Linked DNA regions of Homo sapiens. The protein of the gene in region 1 interacts with the protein of each later gene in a biochemical or structural test. Each region holds a gene or a part of one and is shown in the gene's direction. Other genes may lie near its edges.

Evidence for each region.
Region 2: the proteins of MRPS22 (region 1) and ERCC6 form a complex in vitro, tested with the Homo sapiens proteins (one large-scale study listed by BioGRID).

The regions. Positions count from the first base shown.
Region 1 is NC_000003.12:139,353,993-139,357,922, forward strand, and holds the end of MRPS22 (small ribosomal subunit protein mS22), read left to right. Parts: intron 1-1,689; coding exon 1,690-1,798; intron 1,799-2,926; coding exon 2,927-3,022; 3' UTR 3,023-3,137; downstream 3,138-3,930. Other genes in the region: COPB2 (coatomer subunit beta'), read right to left, coding at 3,871-3,930.
Region 2 is NC_000010.11:49,469,324-49,473,143, reverse strand, and holds part of ERCC6 (DNA excision repair protein ERCC-6), read left to right. Parts: intron 1-115; coding exon 116-235; intron 236-673; coding exon 674-768; intron 769-2,023; coding exon 2,024-2,169; intron 2,170-2,254; coding exon 2,255-2,962; intron 2,963-3,820. UniProt on the Homo sapiens protein: Involved in repair of DNA damage following UV irradiation, acting either in the absence of ERCC6 or synergistically with ERCC6. Involved in the regulation of gene expression.

The DNA.
Region 1 (3,930 bases):
GTATTACTCATCACATGTAAGCTTTACATCTGAAGCAATTCATGCTTACTGGGAGGGAAGTTTGAGTACTTACTTAGCTTTTCCTGCTATTCCTAGGTAAAGGCCCTCCTGTGGTCATTCTGAACAGAAGAGTGAGCTTACTGCAAACCACAGGCTGGACAGTAGAGGGTGCATATCCTCACTGAGTGGAGCTCAGAAAAGAATTAGGATTCTGCACACATTTATTCCAGACTCAGTTCCCACTGTTGGTTTTTATATTGAGATTATTTTAAAATCTTTTCGAAATATAATTTATTTGCTCTTTAAGTATGGGTGGGGTGTTAAGCTAAATTTAAATTGTTCTGTGAGGCACAGGCATTATACTTAAGCATGAACCTAATGAAGCCCTGAACATACCAACAGGTAGCAGTCCAGTTAAGCTCTTTATAAGGCCACATGCCTAAGCTCCAAAGGGAATCTTAATTTTTTATTGGGGAGACATTTCGTTACTACATTTAGTGGACTTTGTTAGATTATAACAAGCACAATAGATTTGTGATGAACATTTTTTATTTTTTTCCCCCTGAAAAGCTTTATGATACAACAGCTCTGTTTTCCTGAGAGATGGCCTTTAGGGTAGATGAGCCTCAGTATAAGCCCAGAGCATTTCTCTAAGGCTACCAAGGCTTGAGGAATTCTGTACTTACTCCCACTGTCACCCTGCTCTTCATCCCCCAGCTCAGGTAAGGGGAACGCAGGGAAGGCTGAAGAGTGCTAGCTGCGGAAGCACTGAATTAGGGTGTCCTCAGCCCTCCATTCCCAACTGGAAGCCAGTAGTTCACTTAGTGTATATAGCAGAGCCTCAAAAGCACAAGCATTTTGAGTGTCGTTTTTCTGTGCCCTCCAGCGATGAGATGGCAAATGGTGGGAAAGTGTCAGCTGTGTGAAAAGATAGTGATTGTTTGGTTTTGCTAGGACAGTTTTAATGTTGATAAAAATTGTTTATACATTTCTGAGAAGTACAGACCAGAAGAACTGAATTCTTGTTCTGTCTTCTTCATAGGTAGTTGTGTGATGCTGAAGTTAAGACAGATTGCTGATGTAGAACCCGATTTTCCTTTTTGTCTGATGTGTGTGTATAATTTCAAATTTGCTTCACTAGGATGCTATTTTACTAATGCGTTCCTGTGAATCCTTTCCTTGGAATCTTAGGGGGCCTCTTGTAGAGGCATTTGTCTGTTAGCAAATGTCACTTAGAGGCAAGTGACTTTGAGATCCCTGTGACCACCACCCTCCTGCTTATGTGGGATGAAGCTGTGTTTCTGTCCTCTGAGTTGGATTAGACTATTACATGCTGGTGAAGTAAGCTGGCCTGGAAATTGTCTACCATTAGGAATGCTGTTTCTGTGAGAAATGGTGCTCTTTTTCCAAAAAGAATATAGCCACATTTGGAATATATTCACTTTCATAAATTGGACACTTCCTGCAGTGACTCCTGCCCTAGCTGCCTCACGGAGTTGGTGTGAGGCCTAAATTAGTCAATTTTCCTGAAAATGCTTTTGAAACTGTAAAACTGAAGGTCCTTCCCCAATCCCTCCAGCCTGAGGAAAGTCTGAAATGTAATTTAGTTTGAAGTTGGCACACACTTTTATAGGACTGTGAATCAAATGAAGAAAACCCCTAGATAACATTAAACCCTTTCATTCTCAGAATCGATGATGCAACCAACTTGGTCCAGCTGTATCACGTGCTCCATCCAGATGGCCAGTCGGCTCAAGGGGCCAAGGATCAGGCTGCTGAGGGAATAAATTTAATCAAGGTAAAGTTTTTTTTTCATATTGGTTGTTTTGTGGTGGTAATTGAGCTGGGAAAAATTCAGAATTGGGTCATAATTAATGGTAACTAAACAGATTTGTGAATATGGGACATCTGTGGTCTTGAAAACATCAGTATGATTTGTCCCCATATTTCTTCAGCCTGGACAATAGAAACAGACAGGGGAGGGGGGTAAAGTGCAGTAAAGTAGGTTGAGTGATGTGGTGCTAGCAGCTGGAGTCCAGAGAAGTTCTGACAGTGCAGGGAGCAGCCCCTTTGTTCTTTGGAGCACTGGAAGGGCTGAGCTGCATCTGAGGTGTTCAAGCCACCAACAGGACAGGGTAGAGGACTAAGTAGCACATGTCCCCCAGAGCAGCTTCCTGTCTTTGTGTGGTCACATCACATCGGGGGAAATGGGCATGTGTCAAGAAGTGGAGAGTGTGATGCTTGTATATCATCAAGCCTTAGCTGTATTGTCATTTTGGAGCTGCATACCTCTCAAAACCATGGGCTTATGTACATTTATCTGTAAGTGCTGAGAGTTGAGATGATATTTTCAGGAAGGGAAGGGGAGGAGATTGTATAATTAATTTCATCTCTTCTAATGCTCAGAATATACATGGTTTTGTGGAACTGGCTTCTATCCTAGTAATACTGTTTGCATGCTGCAAAGCTAAGGAAACAATGACCTGTGATGACATCCTAGGAAGAGTAGAGAGAAACTACAGTACTGATTTTCTTTATGAACCTGATAAAGCGCAATGTTTTTGGAGAAAATATTCTTTAAAGTCAAAAGTTAGTTTGGTAACTCTTAGCCTCCAGATTTCTCTCTAACCTAATGGTTTTTGTTTTGATCTCGAAGGAAGTATTAATATTAATACAATGTCAGGGTCTTAATTGGATACTTCTGGTGTTTAGAATTAGTATTGCTTGAAATGTGTTGGGTATTGTTTTTCTGTCCATGTGTGTTTATTAATTATTGTATAATCGGGGGAAAAATTGTGAAATCTGAAAGCCCTTTTTAAGTAGGACTCTTTGCTACTACAGAAATGCTAATGATGTCTTAAAACTGAAAAACTTTATAAATAGCATATGTCCTATTGTTTTAAAATTTTCTTTTTAATTTAAACAGGTCTTTGCAAAAACAGAAGCACAGAAGGGAGCCTATATAGAACTAACACTGCAGACTTATCAAGAAGCACTCAGTCGCCATTCTGCAGCTTCCTAAAAATATTTTAAAAATACATTTATTTTACTAAATACTGACTACATTTCTCTGTTAATATTGAGCTAAATGTTAAAAAATGGCCAGATTAAAAGATATCAATTTGTAGTTCTCCCTACAAAGCAAAAATTATTACCCTACTCACTTTTCGTAGGCTACAAGGATATTTGAGTGCCTGGTTATGAATTTCTCAAATCATGTTAGATGAGCGTACGGTTAAAAAGTCTGGTGTGTTTTTGTGTTACCAAATAGGGCAAACGTTAACTTAGACAGACCCCCAGCTTAATGAGGTCAGAGGAACAGAGGTTTCACATCCTGACTCCAGAAATGGGTAGCTGCTAGACAAAATCGGGGCAAGACCTGTGGAATGATGCAATGAGGTCAAGAAAAAGGGTTTAGAGAATTACAGCCTGGATATTCAGCTCTAAGAAAAATGTGATTGACAACATTTGAAAATGCAGATTTAGTTATACAAAGAAAAGACAGTGGGGCTGATCCCTAGGCAAGGTGTAGTTTCGGCTCAGCCTTCTAAAACTAGAAGCCTATTTTCATTATTGAGAAAGGAAACAAGTACCTTCATTAATTCAAAAGGTTTTATGAGATATGGTCTAATAGTATGAAAAAAATCAAAGCCCATGTCTGTTTTAGTTAACAAGGAAAACACAGTGATTTAAATGCTGCACATAAACTCTTCTTAAGATGATGTGGGCATTGTGCTCCCAGTGGTCCACAGCATTTACATATAAAAATCTAAGAAGTTTCTCATAGTCCAAAGCACTGTGGTCAGGGTAGCAATCAATACCTATATATAATAATGATCTGTTTAGTCAGGTAAATGGAAAGCATTACAGTCAATCATCCAAAATATCTTCATCCAGATTGATATCTGTTGTGTCAATATCTTCTAATTC
Region 2 (3,820 bases), on another chromosome or scaffold:
TTCCTTATATTGGGAACAGCCCAGTAATTCCATGTGTACAATATGTGGAGGCAGAGGCTGAGAACTGTAACTGGTCTTAAGTGTGTGTGCTCAGTGTTGTGTGTCTTACCTCTAGGACACATCCATATTTGTGTTTCTTCTGACCACGCGGGTGGGCGGCTTAGGTGTCAACCTGACGGGGGCAAACAGAGTTGTCATCTATGACCCAGACTGGAACCCAAGCACGGACACGCAGGTTTGTTTTTATTTTTTTTTTAAAAGAATGTATTAGTAGAAATATAGTTTCATGGTTAGCGCTTTTGACTGTCCTTTGATGTTCTGGTTGGCTTCAGCATACGTTTCACATTTTGATTGTCTCCTGTTCTTCAACGTGAAAGAAGACACCCTTCAGAGTCAAATGGACAGGAACCATCTTCAGCAGTTTATCCATAGCATTCATTCCTAGAGTTGGGGTAAAAAGAACATAGGCAAAGTTACAAACATTTTTTCAAGTAGAGATGTCTTTTCAACTGGCTGTTCATCTTCCTGAGTAGGCCTTAGGTGTACTTGACGTCATGAGTCAAAATTCTAACTCTGGGAGTGACAGGTAGTGACCAGCTAGCTTTGTTTCTTATAGTCAGTGCTTGTCATTGGGAAGGATTCTCGTTGAGAGGTCTCTCTCTCTCTGTTGCAGGCCCGGGAGCGAGCATGGAGAATAGGCCAGAAGAAGCAAGTGACTGTGTACAGGCTCCTGACTGCGGGCACCATTGAAGAAAAGATCTACCACCGGTCAGTGCACACAGTGGCCACTCTTGGCTGTGCGTTCCCAGAGTCTTGAGCAGGGAATTTTTCCAAAGTGTTGTTTTTAAAAGTCTTAACATCTTAGAATAATAGTTGCTATAACTTAAGGCTTTGGTTTTTGTTTTGTATTTTTTCTTTCCCTTTAAAATATGCTTAGATGTCTTACTGTGAGTTGTCAAAAAATGTCTTTGAACCTGATAATTTTTGTACCTTATTCTACCTCAAGAATCACATACATGTAAACTTCATATTGTTATTTGAAAGGAATATTTCTGCCTGCTATGGTGTGTTGCCTTCAGAAAAATTTTAAAAAATGACAAGGTTGAATGTTACCATATTGGTGTTTACATACCACATTATGCAGGTAGGATCAGTGTGGGTGTTCTGGCAGTCTTTGACTCTGATGCCCCTTACAAAGAAGTCGACAGGATGGCTGTTTCGTCCTCTGTCTTTCCATAATGACTAGGGGATTTTAGACAGTGGTAACTTCAACAGTAGAATCAAGACATTGCCAGCTTCTCCCACTCCCCCACCACAGACTTTATCCTTGAGCCATAGCCCAGCTTTTATAGGAAGCTCTGTGCCCTTTACCACATGCTGGGCCATTCCTGGAACATTACATCTTCCTCGAGGGAGTGTTGTGTGAGGGTGGAGGACGAGTTGGATCCTGTGAGAAGAGAGCTTCCTTTTATAGATTCATGCTTTAGCTGGGAGAATAAATGACAGGGAGGGACAGGGTGGCTGGTGGAGGTGCCTGTTCCAGAGTGGCAGTGGTGTGGGGCTTCAGCAGAGTGTGGACCTGCAGGTGGGAGCAGGGAGAGAGAGGTCAGAGTGGAGACATTGCAAAGCCCAGGTAAGAGAGTTTGCTGAGCCCTATGATAGGAAGGTTCTAGGCAGGGCAGGACCCTTGGTATTCAAGTCAAGGAGGCTAAGAGAGACTATGAGTCACATGATGGCATGTGAAAAGGTGTTTCTTGAAATGTGTTAGATCTTGGAGGTTGAAAAAGCTCATTCGGTGTAAATAATAAGGTATTATTTCTAATTTAAATTCTGCAAGACCTGGGAGATTAACTGATGTATTATATATTTCCTGAATTGTAATTTTCCAAGGCTGAAAGTTTGGGGGATTATTTAGCCATTCATGCAGCAGCTGTTATCATCTCTCTCTTATATTGCTTTATAACTTGAATTTTTAGGTAGAGCTACACATTGTTTTATACCAGCTTATCTTTTATTTTTTTAGACAAATCTTCAAGCAGTTTTTGACAAATAGAGTGCTAAAAGACCCAAAACAAAGGCGGTTTTTCAAATCCAATGATCTCTATGAGCTATTTACTCTGACTAGTCCTGATGCATCCCAGAGCACTGAAACAAGTGCAATTTTTGCAGGTATTACATAAAATCATTTAATTTAAAGTAATCAATTGCACAAGATGATACAATATAGTATTAGTGGTGTTTTTCCTCTTTACAGGAACTGGATCAGATGTTCAGACACCCAAATGCCATCTAAAAAGAAGGATTCAACCAGCCTTTGGAGCAGACCATGATGTTCCAAAACGCAAGAAGTTCCCTGCTTCTAACATATCTGTAAATGATGCCACATCATCTGAAGAGAAATCTGAGGCTAAAGGAGCTGAAGTAAATGCAGTAACTTCTAATCGAAGTGATCCTTTGAAAGATGACCCTCACATGAGTAGTAATGTAACTAGCAATGATAGGCTTGGAGAAGAGACAAATGCAGTATCTGGACCAGAAGAGTTGTCAGTGATTAGTGGAAATGGGGAATGTTCAAATTCTTCAGGAACAGGCAAAACTTCTATGCCATCTGGTGATGAAAGCATTGATGAAAAGTTAGGTCTTTCTTACAAAAGAGAAAGACCCAGCCAGGCTCAAACAGAAGCTTTTTGGGAGAATAAACAAATGGAAAATAATTTTTATAAGCACAAGTCAAAAACAAAACATCATAGTGTGGCAGAAGAAGAGACCCTGGAGAAACATCTGAGACCAAAGCAAAAGCCTAAGAACTCTAAGCATTGCAGAGACGCCAAGTTTGAAGGAACTCGAATTCCACACCTGGTGAAGAAAAGGCGTTACCAGAAGCAAGACAGTGAAAACAAGAGTGAGGCCAAGGAACAGAGCAATGACGATTATGTTTTGGAAAAGCTTTTCAAAAAATCAGGTAATCCATTTGATACGTTTGCCACAGGGATGCTAGGATTAGAAAATGAGTAGGCTGTTTCTAGCAGTAGCAGTCTTTAACTGATGGTGCATAGAGGGCTGTCAGCCATTAGTGTTTTTCTTCAAAAATTTAGATTTGAAATATATTGACATTTTAAAAATCGTATTTACACCTCTTTTCTGAAGACCTAGAATAATTTGAAACTTTGGAAAACAATAGTACTTATGGCCACTCATGGGAGGTGTGCAATTCTTAAATCGATGTGTACTACCTGAACATTAGTAGGCAGTTACTTTACATGCTATATGCTACATTAATCTGATTTTCCAACCACAGGAGATTAAAGTAACATCATAAGGGAGAGGGACAAGCGTGTGGCTAGAGACAGACATTCTAGAAGTATGAAAGCTGATAGCTTATGTCAAGGGAGAAAAGTTAGGAGATGTAGACTCAACAATTGCTCAAGACCATGGAGTATATAGATAGCCCTGCTTAGTGATCCCTTAGCAGTCACTGTGTTCACAATGTGATGGCCTTGAGTTACCAAAGATTGCTGCTTATGGTACTCAGTTTAAGAAGGCAGGTTTATGTGTAGCATTTCAGAAAGACTTTTATTTAGCATGGTTAATTTTTTTGTTAATTTCATATTTTGAAGTAATTTCAAACTTAAATCAGTTGGGTCTCAAAAAAAAATCAGTTGGAATAATACGAAGAACTCTCCTATATCCTTTATCTAAGTTATTAACATTTTTCAGCTTTTGCTTTATCATTCACACACACACCCATCTATGCATACATTTTTTTTTTGGTAGGAATGCCACAGAGGTGATACCGTATCTTACTCAGTGCATCTATCAG